Homo sapiens: one gene and its partners. The protein of the gene in region 1 purifies or fractionates together with the protein of each later gene. This does not show direct contact. Each region holds a gene or a part of one and is shown in the gene's direction. Other genes may lie near its edges.

Region 1 (3,631 bases):
GTTGAGCCCATGATGGACCTTCTCCCTTTCACCCTTTGTATGAGCCATTTCCCACTTCTTTGTCTTGGATGAGCAGTTTTCCTTTTGTTCCATCCAGAGTGTCTTGCGCTCGTTCTGTGGACGAGCCCCAGCAGACCTGAGCCAGCACTCACTATGGGTGTATGTGGCATTGCGAGGGTCTGTCATGTGGACACAGCCATAAATGGTTGTGCATTTCTGCCTGACAGTTTTTGCACACTATTCTTCTAGTGCAGTTCTTATAAATGTCCTGCTTCTTGGAAGTTATTGGGACCTTGAGAGCAGGACCTGCCTCTTGTTTTTCCATTGCATTCCAAATTATGCATTCACCAAAATGTAAAATTGACTGTATCCTGTGGAAAAACCCCCCAGAAAATTCACCTGTTTTGGTGAGCCAGGTAGCAAACAGATGGAGCTTTCATGGTGATGATAATTCATAATTATCAGTATTTGTGCTCATTTATAGAGTGTTTGTTACTAGGGATGGGAGGGAAAGGAATGAAACCAAGAAGCAATGTCTACTTAATGTATAAGCCCAGAGGTCACTTTCCACTGTGTTGGGGACAAGGTGATAAGAAGTAGGCAATAAATACATTTTGTGTTTCTTAGCGTTCAGGAATTCATGACCTTCACGAGTCAACTGATTGTGGAGCGCTCATCGAAAGGCACTAGAGCTTCTGTCAAAGAACAAGGTAAGAAGACCCTCCAACTTCTGTGCGTGTGCTGGCCTGGCTGCCATGCCTCACCTCACATAGCACCCAGCTTTCTCCTTTCTACTGGGACCCTACTCCTCCTCTAGCTTGTTCTCTCTTTCCCACCTCTTCCTTTTCCTATTTATGCAGAATTCTGTGCCCACTGTTGAAGTCTGAGCTTCCCAGATAAAATTGCCCTCAAACTTAGACTCATTTAAGATTAGGGTCTGACTCTTTTGGAGCAGTAAGCAGCCTTCATATCGTATTCTTCCCTATCCTCTTCAGAGTTGCAGACCCCTCAAAAAAGGATTTCCAGCTAGCACTGTTGAGGTACTATATGTATTCTGTGCATCGTAGATTTTTTGATCAGGAATCTGAAAAAACTATTTTTTCTTTCTGATAATTCAGGTTTAGGCATTTATTTAGATGTGTATGTTATACAGACAGATCAGGAAAGAGTTACATGAGTTTCATCAGGTAGGGACAAAGATCATCTCACACTTATGCTAACCTCAAGTCACGTGACATAGAGTTACTGAATTGATGATATAAATGTCAGTTATGATACAGGCAGGATTGACTATATACACTTTATGTGGGATCTCTGTGCTATTAACATCATAGAAGTGAAATCGCATCACAAATATTTCAGTGTTCTTGCTCTGTTCTTCAAACTGTGCCTGCCCTTCCCACGTTTATTACTTAAAGACAATTCCTCCACTGACCAGGTTCTCAGTTTCTTTGGAGGGTATGCACTTTGACCCCATGTTTGAATCTTAATTGGGGATGGTATACAAAATCTGGAGAGCATTGGTGACAACCCCCTGTCCTCTTCCTCCTCCTCATTCTTGTTCTCATTTATCTCTGCTCTTTTCTGATTTCAGGGGCTCACCATCATTCCCTCCTCTTTTATTTGTTTTTCTGTTGTTTAGCATTGGAATCTTCTGGGTCAGATCCTTAAGGACAAGAAGGTTCTTATTTGTAAGCTGTAATCCTTACATTTCTCTTTCCTTGGGGATATGGTTAGCTGTATCAACTCTGAATCCTTTCAAAGTGATGGAAATGAACAATCCTGTGGATTGTGAATATTTTGCGGAAGACCTGTACAACTGTACCTTTCAATCATATGAGGATTTTAGCACAGTGCTCTGGAGGCCTTAGCTGGCAGTAGCTAATCTTTTTCTAGACTAACCCCCCTACTCCCAGTCACCCACCAGAGTGGAGCAAACCCAGCAGGTTGCTATAATATGGAAGACTGAGGCCCTGGGGGGTAATTTCCTGTCTTTTGGCTGCTCTGAAAAGATTTTTTAAGAAAGCAGAGGCCTCTTGGCTTGTCCAGGGTTCCCTAAGTTTGGGAGCAGCACAGAGCCCCAAGGGCTCCAGATCCCTAAGATATAGCTTGGCCTGACCCGAGCTTAAGGAATACACTTGGAAATGCTCCTGGGGCCATGTTGTCAAGGGTGTGTTTTCTGCACCACTGGCTGTTTCTTTAAGCCCTGGCTTTGCATACTGGGCCTCTGGGTATTTACTGGTCCTAAAGCAGGCGTTGGGCCAAGCTCCTGTGTGTGGCCCATTGGGCTGTGCTGCTAAGCCTCTCCACAAGACTTGCCCAGAGCTATTGAGCTTCCGAGTGGCTTCATTTGGCCTAACATTGGATGCTTTGATTTGGGGGGATTAAAAGAAGTCTGAAGCCCTCATGTCAGCATCCATGTGTCTGATCTCTTGTCTCCTTAGACTATCTGTGCCACGTCTACGTCCGGAATGATAGTCTTGCAGGTGTGGTCATTGCTGACAATGAATACCCATCCCGGGTGGCCTTTACCTTGCTGGAGAAGGTGAGTTTTTTATTTGCCTCTCCTGGACTTGGATGATGAATGGGCACATTTATGGACTGGGACAGGGGTTGATGGCAGTCCCTGAGACATAAGGGATGAAATGATGTGTCCAAAGTCAACACATTTTTCAGCCCCCTTCCCTGCAACCCAAGAGACAATTTGGCATCCCTGTATGGGTTTCCTCCCCGGTGCTGTCCCTCATGTGAGCTGGGTCTAGGCCACTGAGTCATAGCATCTATTCTCTGGGATGGGACCCTCGGAGACAGCTGTGCCTTGTGTTCTCGCCCCCTGTGCTTCTGCTCAAGGAGTCTCCCTCTTGAATGCCTTCACTCTCCCCATTGCCTCCTGCAGTTGCTGCATCCCTCTACCTTGATGTCAGTCAGTTGCACCACAGAGCTTAGCACCTAAGCATTCTTTAAATTTTTTTGCGTACGGTGCTAATTACTAATATTAACTCTTTGAAGTCAGAGGCTTCATCCTATACCCCAGAGCACCAAAATACCTCCAAACACATGGAATCTGGTGGTTTCTTAAATCTAGGGGACCTAATTCTCTTTTTTAAAAAATTGCTTTGGAAAATTAGAGGACCAGTGCCCCTTTTTTCTGGAAATCTGTAGTTTAAAATTCAAATACCTTTATTACTCCCCAAGTGAGGTTCATCTCGGGCTGGGCATACTTTTGATTCTCAGAATATTTAGGATATGTTTTAATGATAAAAATTTGGAAAGAACTTTAGCCTAGATTTTCTCTGTTGCCATTATATGTCCCCCTCATTCCTCCTTCCTGGGCTGTGAAGGCCAAGGAGCCTCATTCAGGGTGAGGTGCTCAGGGGTGAAGCCCTGTCATTGAGACCACTGGTGAGTGCACAGTGGGAGGCTTGTTGAGTCTCCTTTGTCTTGCAGGTACTAGATGAATTCTCCAAGCAAGTCGACAGGATAGACTGGCCAGTAGGATCCCCTGCTACAATCCATTACCCAGCCCTGGATGGTCACCTCAGTAGATACCAGGTAGGGTTAAAGGAAGCTTCAGCAGACACCATGTGGCCCAGAATCCATGTGAAACTGAAAAAGCCAACTGCCCTGATAG
Region 2 (3,187 bases), on another chromosome or scaffold:
AGGGAAAAGAAGGGGCTGGAGAAGGGCTTTAAAGGGAGGCCCTCATGCAAATATGTCGGGTCCTCTTCATTGCAGCATCGCGGCTGAGTCAGCAGCTCTGGCACAGCTGACCTGCAGTGCTGCCTCCAGCCCAGGAGAGAGGATGGGCCCCTCCCCTAATTTGGCTTGGTTCTACCCAGACTTCAGCCCTGGGAGTTGGGATGGTAAGCTGCCTTCAGTGAAGGGACAGGATAGAGAGGGGCCGTGGAGAAACCTGGCTGAGAGAACTCCACTCAGTGCAGCCTCCCCACACCACAAGCCACAGTCCTGGAGAGGGCGCTTCTCTTCCATGTCTCTACCCAGGATACCCTGGAGAGGCCCCGATCCTCAAACTCAGGACTTATGTTTCCATACCTGTTAGCTGAATGTCTGTAGATCATTCGTTCACCACCACACAATCTCTCTCTCTCTCTCTCTCTCTCTTTTTTTTTTTTTTTTTTTGAGACGGAGTCTCGCTCTGTCGCCCAGGCCGGACTGCGGACTGCAGTGGCGCAATCTCGGCTCACTGCAAGCTCCGCTTCCCGGGTTCACGCCATTCTCCTGCCTCAGCCTCCCCAGTAGCTGGGACTACAGGCGCCCGCCACCGCGCCCGGCTAATTTTTTGTATTTTTAGTAGAGACGGGGTTTCACCTTGTTAGCCAGGATGGTCTCGATCTCCTGACCTCATGATCCACCCGCCTCGGCCTCCCAAAGTGCTGGGATTACAGGCGTGAGCCACCGCGCCTGGCCTTTTTTTTTTTTTGAGACTGAGTCTCACTATGTCGCCCAGGCTGGAGCGCAGTGGCATGATCTCGGCTCACTGCAGCCTCCATTTCCCAGGTTCAAGTGATTCTCCTGCCTCAGCCTCCCCAGGAGCTGGGATTACAGGCGTGCCACTATGCCTAGCTAATTTTTGTATTTTTAGTAGAGATGGGGGTCTCACCATATTGGCCAGGCTGTTCTCGAACTCCTGACCTCAAATGATCCACCTGCCTGGGCCTCCCAAAGTGCTGGGATCACAGGCATGAGCCACCGTATGCAGCCACCACACAATCTCTTATGATTATAGTCAGAGCCCCCAAAAGTGACGGCAGGCTCCAAGCCCAAATGCTGGTGCTCCCTTGACCCATTATCCTGCCTGTCCCTCCCCATCCCCCATCAAGGCAGGGACCAGCAAGGATGTCACATCAGACTGAGAATCCCAGAGGGAAGTAAGGCCTGGATTCCCTTCTTCCCACCCAGTTCCTTTCTACCACCCTGAGGTGAGACAGGAGGAGCTACAATCCTCTTTGGGTGGGTAGTGACAGGTACATAGCTACAGCTCCATGGAGGCTGGCACCCAGGCCCCTTCTAAACTCTGGGAGGGGAAAGCATTACCAGGCCTTCTGTCTCACTGCTGCAGCAGGAGAGACTCTGGAATGCACTTCAGACCAAAGACCTGGCCCTGGTTCCAGGGTGGTTGCTGACTGGCAGCCTGGCATTGGTCCAGCTGCCTGACCTGTGGGGCCAAGGTGTGCCCTTGTGTCCATCCACTGACATAAGATCCAGCGGGTGTGGCTGAAACGATGGCATCATTATGAAAGCAGAGAGGAAGGAATGATGAGAGTAGGGAAGGCCCTCCATTCCCTGGAGGTCCAGAGAATTCCTCTTTGCAAGGACAGGCTTCCAGGCTTCCTGGAGGTATTGAGGTTCTCAGCCAGCTGGAGGGAAAGCCCTATAAGAGTTAAGGAGGAAGACTCTGCCTTGACTCCCAATTCAGGCCCAGATCAGACCTGCCCTAGAAATCCAGGGATCCTCTCTGCCCCTTTCCTGAAACAAGTCCTGTATGATTGGAAGGGGGCGGGGGAGGGGGAGCGTGGCAGGGATGAGGCGAGGCTGGAGGCCAGGTTTCTGGGTCTGCTGATCCTCCCCCACGGGACTGCCTCACCTCCCTCCCTTCTCATCCTCTCTCTCCTCTCGCCCTCCCTCCCGTGTCCCCCACCCGCAGGTGCGGGCCAGTGCTATTGCCCAGGACGCGGACCAGAACTACGACTACGCCAGCAACAGCGTGATCCTGCACCTGGACGCCGGCGACGAGGTCTTCATCAAGCTGGATGGAGGCAAAGCACACGGCGGCAACAGCAACAAATACAGCACGTTCTCTGGCTTCATCATCTACTCCGACTGAGCTCCCCACGTCTCCCTCCACCCACGTCCCTCACCCGCCGGGGTCCCCTCCGGGCGGGGCAGACGATGACTCGCCCCTCGCCCACCCGCTCGCTGCCCGGCCCTCCCCGGCTATGACGCCCCCGGCCCGTGCTCAACACCGCCTGGGCCACAGCTAGGCCCTCCCACCGGCTCGCTGCAGAGCCGGGCCCAGCGCGCCCTGTCCCCGTGCCAGGGAACCGGGGTTGACCGCCCCCGCCCAGCCCGCGCTATATATTTGTACAATAGGACTGTTTACTGCCCACCTCCGCCTGCCAGCCCACCCCAGCCTGGGGAGAGGTCGCGGCGGCGGGTTTGCTTCCTGCGCTCTGAGATGAGCTGCCCTCCGCTCCCTCCGGGGTGGCGCGCCCGGGGGAGGGGGGAGTTGGGGGCTGGATAGCTTCCCAGCACCCTCAGAGCCCCCGCCCGGCTGTGCCCCGTCTGACCAAAGTTATAATAAAAACATTTTCACCCCGCAGGGGTTTCAGTCTGTGCCCTGGGGAGGGCTGCGGGAGGCGACGGTGGACCGTGCCCTCCTCCAGATTAGGAAGGGGTCTGGTGGAAGTTTCTAGGGGAAACCAGGTGCCAGAGCCAGAGCTACTCCAAGAAGAAGTTGCCAAAGGGCCTAAAGCCCACCACAACCCAAGTGGGCCTGGGCAGCTGGGATGGGAAGCAGCCCAGTTACTTCATCATCTTCCATGGTGGACACATTCCTTTTTTTTTTTTTTTTTTTTTTAGACGGAGTCTCGCTCTGTTGCCAGGCTGGAGTGCAATGGCAAGATCTCGGCTCCCTGCAACCTCCGCCTCCCGGGTTCAAGCGATTCTCCTGCCTCAGCCTCCCGAGTAGCTGGGAATACAGGCGCACACCACCACGCCCAGCTAATTTTTGTATTTTTAGTAGAGATGGGGTTTCACCATGTTGGCCAGGCTGGTCTCAATCTCCTGACCTCATGATCCGCCTGCCTCAGCCTCCCAAAGTGCTGGG
Region 3 (3,631 bases), on another chromosome or scaffold:
TGGGACTCCAGAGTGTGTGGATTTTATTCTACTGATTATGTAGATATTGGGAGTTTGAGCAGTTACAGAGACTACAGACCTCGCGGGCTAAGCCTGGTTGTATTATTAAGGGCAGAAGAATGCAGTGGGACTTACGGGTTTGAGGTACTAATGAGGTCCCCCAAGTCAAGAGGAGGCTCATTATGTACATGTGGAGGTCAAGAAGCCAGAGTGAAGCTGCCCAAACAGGGTACCCTTTATGTTTTCAAATTCCTGTCTATCTCCCAGTGTATCCCTACTGTTGGACAATAAGTTTTTGGGGGGTTTTGCTGTTTTAAATAATGCTATGCTGAACATCCTTGTAACTTTTCTGATTAGTTTTTTTAGGATAAATTGCTAGAGATGTAATTCATTGCTGGACCACAGGGCCAAATATAAATCCTAATACTTAAAAATATGTGTGTGTGTGTGTCTGTGTATGTGTAAATGTATAGATATATACACACATATATACACATACACATATATACACATGTGTATATATGTACACGTGTGTGTATATATGTATATATTTTTTTTCTCGAAAAGATGTACAAACAGTTAAAAAAAAATTCAGACAGTACAAATACGGGATGTCCAGTGAATAAGTCTGCCTCCCACACCTGGCCCTCCTTCTGCAGGCTTCACCTTAAGAGAAAAATGCTGTTACTAGGTTTTTGTGTATTTGCCCAGAAATATCCTATGTTTATATAAACATGTATGTTTCTATTATTTTCACTCTCTTTCTCTTTTTTTTTTTTTTTTTTTTTTTGAGACAAGGTCTGGCTCTGTCGTCGTCCAGGCTGGAGTTCAATGGTGTGATCTTGGCTTACTGCAACCTCTGCCTCCCAGGCTCAAGTGATCCTCCCACATCAGCCTCTCTAGTAGCTAGGACTACAGGCGTGCACCATCACACCCTGCTAATTTTTTGTATTTTTTGTAGAGTTGGGGTTTTGCCGTGTGGCCCAGGCTGGTCTCGAACTCTTGAGCTCAAGCAATCCGCCAACCTTGGCCTCCCAAAGTGTTGGGATTACAGGAGCCATGAACCACCACACCCAGCCCACCCTCTTTTTTTTTTAAACACAAATGGGAACATCTTATATCTACACTTTAAAATAGTGCTTCCCATTTCTTTGTATGGCTGTGTGATATATATGCCCAGTCCTGAGCTGGTAATGACACACTCCAGGGCTGCAAGGTCTTTATTGAGCAACCACAGAGTGCAAGGCACAGGATTAAGGCTGCCTCTGCGAAAGCAACACGATGTCTTAAACTGGGCTAGTCCCCCAGAATGCTTTGCAGTCTCCCGGGGAAAGGGGATTTGTAGCGCGCCTGGGACCCAGTGGGCCCCTAGTATCCCAGGCAGGAAGTAGAAGAGGCTGTCAGACCCTGGGGTTGTGGTGGGGTCAGGAACTCTTCGCCCCACTACCCCAGCAAGCACCCAGTATCTACCCCAGTACTCCCGGAGGGAGCTGGTCTGCCCGAAGTGAGTGTGCCATTGTATGCAGGGGCGGGGGCCACAGACTCAAGAGGCCTGGGGGAAGCTGGCTTCACAGGTGAAGGGTGAGGGGTAGGGGCACGTCTGTGCCCGGCACTGGAGCAGAATGCTTGCTTTCTCCTGGATAGCCGACTAGATTGTCTCCTTTTTTTCTTTCCTTTTTCCCCAGAGGCTCATCCAAAATAGAGGAAGCATGCGAAATCTACGCCAGAGCAGCAAACATGTTCAAAATGGCCAAAAACTGGAGTGGTATGTCATCTCCGCTAGAGCTCCTCCAAGGTGCTCTCCTCCTCCCTCAGCTTCCACTCACACAGGCCTGCCCGAGAGGTTGGCCTTGAGGGCCCTTTCTCTTTGTATGCCCTCTCCGGCATCGGAAAGCCACTGGCCTGCTCTCTTGTTTTGTGCCTGCTGGGTTACTTTATACTCTGGGTCATGGGGCCTTGGTGAAAGGACAGAGAGGATGGGAATAAATAGATTATTAGACCTAGATAAACCCATGTGGATTGATGAGCTCTTAGAGTCCTCCTTAAATTCAGAACTTCAGGTTTCCTGGTAACTTCCTTAGTGCTTCCATCAGTGTCTAAATTCTAGGCTGGGGGAGGATGTTCAGGTGATTCCAATAACAACGTGAATCATGGCTGCTGTTTGTTGAGTCCTAAGTGCTCATCATTTAATTGCGTTAGCACAGCAGCCCTAAGGGTCAGTCTATAAATATCCCTATTTTACAGATTTGGAAACTGAGGCTTGGCTTAGTCTCTTGCCCAGGATGCCAGAACTAGTAAGTGACAGAACCAAGATTCAGAAACCAAGGCTCTGACTGCAGAGCCTGAGTGTTTAACCTGCCCCAGTGAGGCAGGATAGCTTCACAGAGGAGAGGGGTGGGGAGGAGCCCCTTGGGCTCAGGGAGGCTGGAGATCTGTTTGGAGCTCCCTGCAGGCCCAAGAAGTCCAACAAGCCAGTGTGTTGAGCCCTTTCGAGGCTCATTTCATCATACATCTTTCATGTCACCAAGATTGAATTAAGGAAATACGGCAAGAGACCCAGTGTTTGAATGCAGGGAGGAACTTCTGACTGTGGAGGAGAGGGAACCTGGTGGTGGGACCATGGAGGCAGGGTGCAGAGGTGCACAATAAAATTGATTATCATCGTTTTTGAGAATGTTGTTGGTTTCCCCAAAATTCAAAGAGTTATTCCTGAGTTTTCACAAAATACGTTGTGAATAAAGCCAAATGTTTTTTGTATTTTTATGCTCCCAAACTTAGAAAATTCCTCTAGAGAAAAAAAGCTTATTTTTTAATTACATAGGTGTTGCTTTTCCCCTAAAATTTGTTACCTCTGCCCCCAAACTCTTCAAAGAAAAGCCCTAGGCCATTTCCCCCCGGTAATATCCCCTTTTCTTGAAATTTTTTTTTTTTTTTTTTTTTTTTTTTTTTTGAGACAGTCTTGCTCTGTTGCCAGGCTGGAGTGCAGTGGCGCGATCTTGGCTCACTGCAACCTCCGCCTCCCTGGTTCAAGTGATTCTCCTGCCTCAGCCTCTTGACTAGCTGGGATTACAGGCACGTGCCACTACGCCCAGCTTATTTTTGTATTTTTAGTAGAGACAGAGTTTTACCATGTTGTCCAGGATGGTCTCCATCTCCTGATCTCGTGATCCGCCCACCTCGGCCTCCCAAAGTGCTGGGATTACAGGCATGAGCCACCGCGCCTGGCCGTAATTTTATACTCAAATTTGGAACTCTTGAAAATAATGAAATCATATAGTGAAAACCCGGAAGGCTTTGTCTTTTCTGCTGCTCAAAACTTAAGAGGATAGGGCCAGGCCTCCTGGTCCTCTTCCAGCTTAGAAACTCTGACTCAGATTCAGCTGGAGGAGAATGAAGGGGAGAAGCCTCAGAGCTGAGCTGGAGGTGGTCAGCTGCACGAGGAGGAGGAGAGATGCTGCTGCCTCCCAAACGTCAGTTAGGAGATGTGTGGGCAGAATGGCTTGGGACCCACAGAAGCTGACCGTGTGCAGATGAGCACAGGATGGATGAGGCTTCAGGCACGGTCTCTTCTGCCCTCCGCCCATGGGCACTGGTCTGCATGTATTCATTCTTGCTGTCCACATCCTGTTTC
Region 4 (4,111 bases), on another chromosome or scaffold:
GTATTATTTGAGGAGTCATTTCCTGCATAGCTTCTAATCAATTTCCCACAGGGACAAAGATCATCATCCCATGTACCCAGAATTGCTTTATTTAATATGCTTGAGTCAATTTATCAATCTGTTTTCAATGCAAGAATTGTATTTTATTCCTCCTCAGTCCAGTAGTTGGCATAAACACTCAGTAAATATCTGTTGAATGAAGAAATGAACCAAACGAAAAAAAATGTGGAATTTTTCTCATGAAAAACACCCAGAGAATTACACAACACCAATGAGACTCAATCTTTACCCACAAATGGCTTACAGTCTAGGAGGACAAACTGCCAAGCCCTTTAGCTGTTATAAAAATGTGGGGCCAACTTAGAGCTAATGGTTTCTCCTGAGTGCTTGTTTGCCCATGAGAAATATTCAGTTACTTCTGACAATATGTCGGTTGTGCCTTCACGGTCCTTACTTCAGATGAAGTCTTTACATTCTATCAAAACCTTTCACTCTAAGAGTTCTTAGTCGTTGAGTTTTGTTTAATTTATAAAACTTGCCGGGCGTGGTGGCTCATGCCTGTAATCCCAGAACTTTGGGAGGCCGAGGCAGTCAGATCACCTGAGGTCAGGAGTTCAAGACCAGCCTGACCAACGTGGCAAAACCCCATCTCCACTAAAAATACAAAAATTAGCCAGGCCTGGTGGCACACACCTGTAATCCTAGCTACCTGGGAGGCTGAGGCAGGAGAATCGCTTGAACCCAGGAGGCAGAGGTTGCAGCCAGCCGAGATTGTGCCACTGCACTCCAGCCTGGGCAACAGAGCGAGACTCTGTCTAAAAATATATAGTAAGAATTATAATAATAATTTATAAAACTTGTTCTTAGTGTCTTTCAGTTAAGAGTAGCATGAAAAAAATACCTCCCTTGAATAAGTCAAACTGAGGCACAACAGTTTCAGGATGGAAGTTTCTGGGTGAAGTTGGGCTGGCAGCTGAACAAGTAAATGATAGCAGCTCTCAGTCCCTCCCCTCCTGTCCTGCCAGACAGTTGTTACCTCAGGGCAGGGGGAAAGTAGCTTGGCTATTCCCGACAGATGGACAGTTGGTAGAACGGACCCTCCCACAGGCCCTCATCCCCTTGTGCAGCTGCTGGCCTCGTAGACAATCGGCTGTCTCCCCAGAAGAGGGAAAGAATTGTGCAGATGAGAAAGAGGCTCTCAGCGGGAGGGAGGCAGGCGGGCTTGATTGACACAGGAGAGGGCTGGCTTTTTGGAGGGCTCTTAGCAACGGCCCTGGTTGAGCCCCCTCAGCCATGAGAAAATCAAATCAATGTGCCATTCTTCCAGGCGCGAGGCAGCAGCGGCTGCAGTTCAACATGAAAGGAGGCTTCCTCCCTGCCTGCTAATTACCTGCTCTTCCCGATCTCATCGTTTCTGCCTTTGCAAAGTGCTACTGAGAAGGGGGAAGAAACGTCCGCCACCCATCCCCCTTGCTGCCTGGGGGTTCAGACTTGATTGTGAGTCCGTGTTATATCATCTGGTCTCATTGATAGGCGGGATAGGGAGGGGGATTCCAGCCCCCCTGGACCGGCCGGAGGTTTATTCTAGAGTTACTGGCGGGTAGCTGTGCTTTTCTTTCCCGTTTGTAGGTGAAACCCCATTGGCTTCATTGGCTCCTTGATTTAAACCACGCCCGGCTTTCTGCCCTCTTTGCTGCTGCTGGGCCAGGTTGCCCAGCCATATCCCAGCCCCGTCTGCAGGGAGCCGGAGGCTGCTGCTGCTGCTATTGTGTGGATGCCGCGCGTGTCTTCTCTTCTTTCCAGAGATGGCTAACAGGGGCCCGAGCTATGGCTTAAGCCGAGAGGTGCAGGAGAAGATCGAGCAGAAGTATGATGCGGACCTGGAGAACAAGCTGGTGGACTGGATCATCCTGCAGTGCGCCGAGGACATAGAGCACCCGCCCCCCGGCAGGGCCCATTTTCAGAAATGGTTAATGGACGGGACGGTAAGGCCGGCAGCGATCTCGGTTGCTGGGGCGGTGGGCAGGGAAACCCTCCAGGGCCCTTTCTTTTAACGTAAGGCTGCGGGAAGAGCTGCTGTTGCCAAGCTCTATGTCTCACCGGGAGGGGATGAGAATGCCTTTATTTCTTCAGGGTTGGAAGATTTGGGCTCCATGCACTATTCCCTAGCTAGCTTGGGGGTTCTCCACTCACCCTAGCATTACATCTCCCTTCTGAGTTGGCAAATTCGAAGCCCTTTTGATTTTTCTAATGAGAATAGAGATAAGTATGTCCTTGTAATTTCCCCAGCCTTCCTGGTGCATCAGCTCTTCTGGGGCCATTTCTTTCCCTAGGGGATCGTGTTGGTTACACAGTAAAACAAAGAAGGGAGGAGGGGGACTAGCCACCTTCACATTCTTGTGGGAGCCATGCACCCTGGAAGTGTTCAGTGTCTGTTTATTGAGTGGATGCGTTCTCATGAAACTGAAAGGAGTCCTTATTTGTTAACTGCATTTCTGACCAAATGCTCGTGTGTGTTTGAGGGTTTGAGGGCCGCAGGCTCTGTGATTCAAACAAGCCCATCCTTTCCTGCAGTCTGTGATTTACTGTTACATAACTGCTATCCAATGCTTCTGCTGGGTTGCCCAGAGCTTGGGTTATATATATATATCTGGGAAAAAGGTACCACATCCACTTCTTTTACACATTGTTAAAATATATGGGATGAGTAAATTGAAGCCTGCTTAATTTGCCTTTTGATAGAAGAAATAATATTAGACTCTATCATTTGAGCTCTGCCAACCTCAGGAGCCACTAAGTCATTCCTCCTTTGAAAGTCTAGAATCACGTCCTCATCACGTCACATCATTCCCTATCTGTAAACATCCTTTCCCTCATCCAGAAAAAGGAAGGGAGGAACAGGGAGGGAATGGCGCTCCCAGGCTACAGGAATCTCTGTAGTAAGGAGCAGCATTAGGAATGGGGTCCTCTGGGTCTTTGGGGCTTAGTATAGGAGCCTGGCTACACAGCCCAGAGCCCGTGCCTTCCTAGGGCCCATGACTTGCTCCTGCCCAAACTGGATGAGCAGTGTCCCACGTGAGCAGGATTCACTTCTCATTCTTGACCTGTAAATACAAAGGGAAACATTGATTCTGTCTCTCCCCTCCCTCTTCAGGTCCTGTGCAAGCTGATAAATAGTTTATACCCACCAGGACAAGAGCCCATACCCAAGATCTCAGAGTCAAAGATGGCTTTTAAGCAGATGGAGCAAATCTCCCAGTTCCTAAAAGCTGCGGAGACCTATGGTGTCAGAACCACCGACATCTTTCAGACGGTGGATCTATGGGAAGGTAAACAGCCCCCTGGCCTTTGGGATTGTTCTTTTCTTCTCTCCTTTGCCCCATCTCCTTGTAAAAACTGCTCACAGTGTTCTTCCCTGTGCCGATTGATGTGTGTAAGATGCTCTCAGCTGTTATCCTGGGGGCAGTGTTTGCCTTCCCCATTGTTATGTTCTATTAAAAGGAGGTACCCTCTTCTAATGGAACACACACCCTGAGGACACAGAGGGGATCTCAGCAACTAATGTAAACAGAAGCCTCAAGCTAGAGGAAGCTAACGGTGACATACTGCCTTTTATTCCTCTTACCACTCCCATAACAAATCACAGCTACCAGAGGAGAAGGGAGGCAGGGGGCCAGTGTGCTTCTTGCTCAACTGCAGCTTATAGACAAAGCCATCTGGGGCTATTTTGTCAATCTGAGAAATAGATAGCACTCCAACCTTTTGTTAAACCTTTATCTGGGAGCTTGGTGACTATGCCTTCCAGATATGCATTCTGCTCAGTGTGACAAGTGCTTGTTTCCTTCACATTTGTGAATTGACTTGCTGAGGAAATCTTACAAAAGCATAAAAATCAAATCACACTCCTGGATGTATTTAATGATCTGCCATTACTGGGGGAAATGATGTGAATGGAGACACTGCCAGAGAATTTGGGACCTATGGTCATGGTGTCGTTAATGTCCCCTTTAGCGAAAATGTGTATACCCAACCATATGACTGTGTTCCTTCTCCACTAGGCCTGCCTGAGGCACCAAGAGATACCAACTAGTCAGAGCAGGACTGTCAGATT

What was found. Proteins that work in one complex are often made in the same cells at the same time.
Region 2: the proteins of YKT6 (region 1) and C1QL1 purify together in Homo sapiens (affinity purification with mass spectrometry; 2 studies listed by BioGRID and IntAct, with this or other methods). This does not show direct contact.
Region 3: the proteins of YKT6 (region 1) and NAPA purify together in Homo sapiens (affinity purification with mass spectrometry; 2 studies listed by BioGRID and IntAct, with this or other methods). This does not show direct contact.
Region 4: the proteins of YKT6 (region 1) and TAGLN3 fractionate together in Homo sapiens (co-fractionation; one large-scale study listed by BioGRID). This does not show direct contact.

The regions. Positions count from the first base shown.
Region 1 is NC_000007.14:44,203,941-44,207,571, forward strand, and holds part of YKT6 (synaptobrevin homolog YKT6), read left to right. Parts: intron 1-627; coding exon 628-710; intron 711-2,444; coding exon 2,445-2,545; intron 2,546-3,447; coding exon 3,448-3,552; intron 3,553-3,631. UniProt on the Homo sapiens protein: Vesicular soluble NSF attachment protein receptor (v-SNARE) mediating vesicle docking and fusion to a specific acceptor cellular compartment. Functions in endoplasmic reticulum to Golgi transport; as part of a SNARE complex composed of GOSR1, GOSR2 and STX5.
Region 2 is NC_000017.11:44,959,186-44,962,372, reverse strand, and holds the end of C1QL1 (C1q-related factor precursor), read left to right. Parts: intron 1-2,005; coding exon 2,006-2,185; 3' UTR 2,186-2,680; downstream 2,681-3,187. UniProt on the Homo sapiens protein: May regulate the number of excitatory synapses that are formed on hippocampus neurons. Has no effect on inhibitory synapses.
Region 3 is NC_000019.10:47,501,557-47,505,187, reverse strand, and holds part of NAPA (alpha-soluble NSF attachment protein), read left to right. Parts: intron 1-1,685; coding exon 1,686-1,765; intron 1,766-3,590; exon of another isoform or gene 3,591-3,631. UniProt on the Homo sapiens protein: Required for vesicular transport between the endoplasmic reticulum and the Golgi apparatus. Together with GNA12 promotes CDH5 localization to plasma membrane.
Region 4 is NC_000003.12:111,997,618-112,001,728, forward strand, and holds the start of TAGLN3 (transgelin-3), read left to right. Parts: upstream 1-1,304; 5' UTR 1,305-1,497; intron 1,498-1,629; exon of another isoform or gene 1,630-1,803; 5' UTR 1,804-1,805; coding exon 1,806-1,985; intron 1,986-3,154; coding exon 3,155-3,329; intron 3,330-4,111.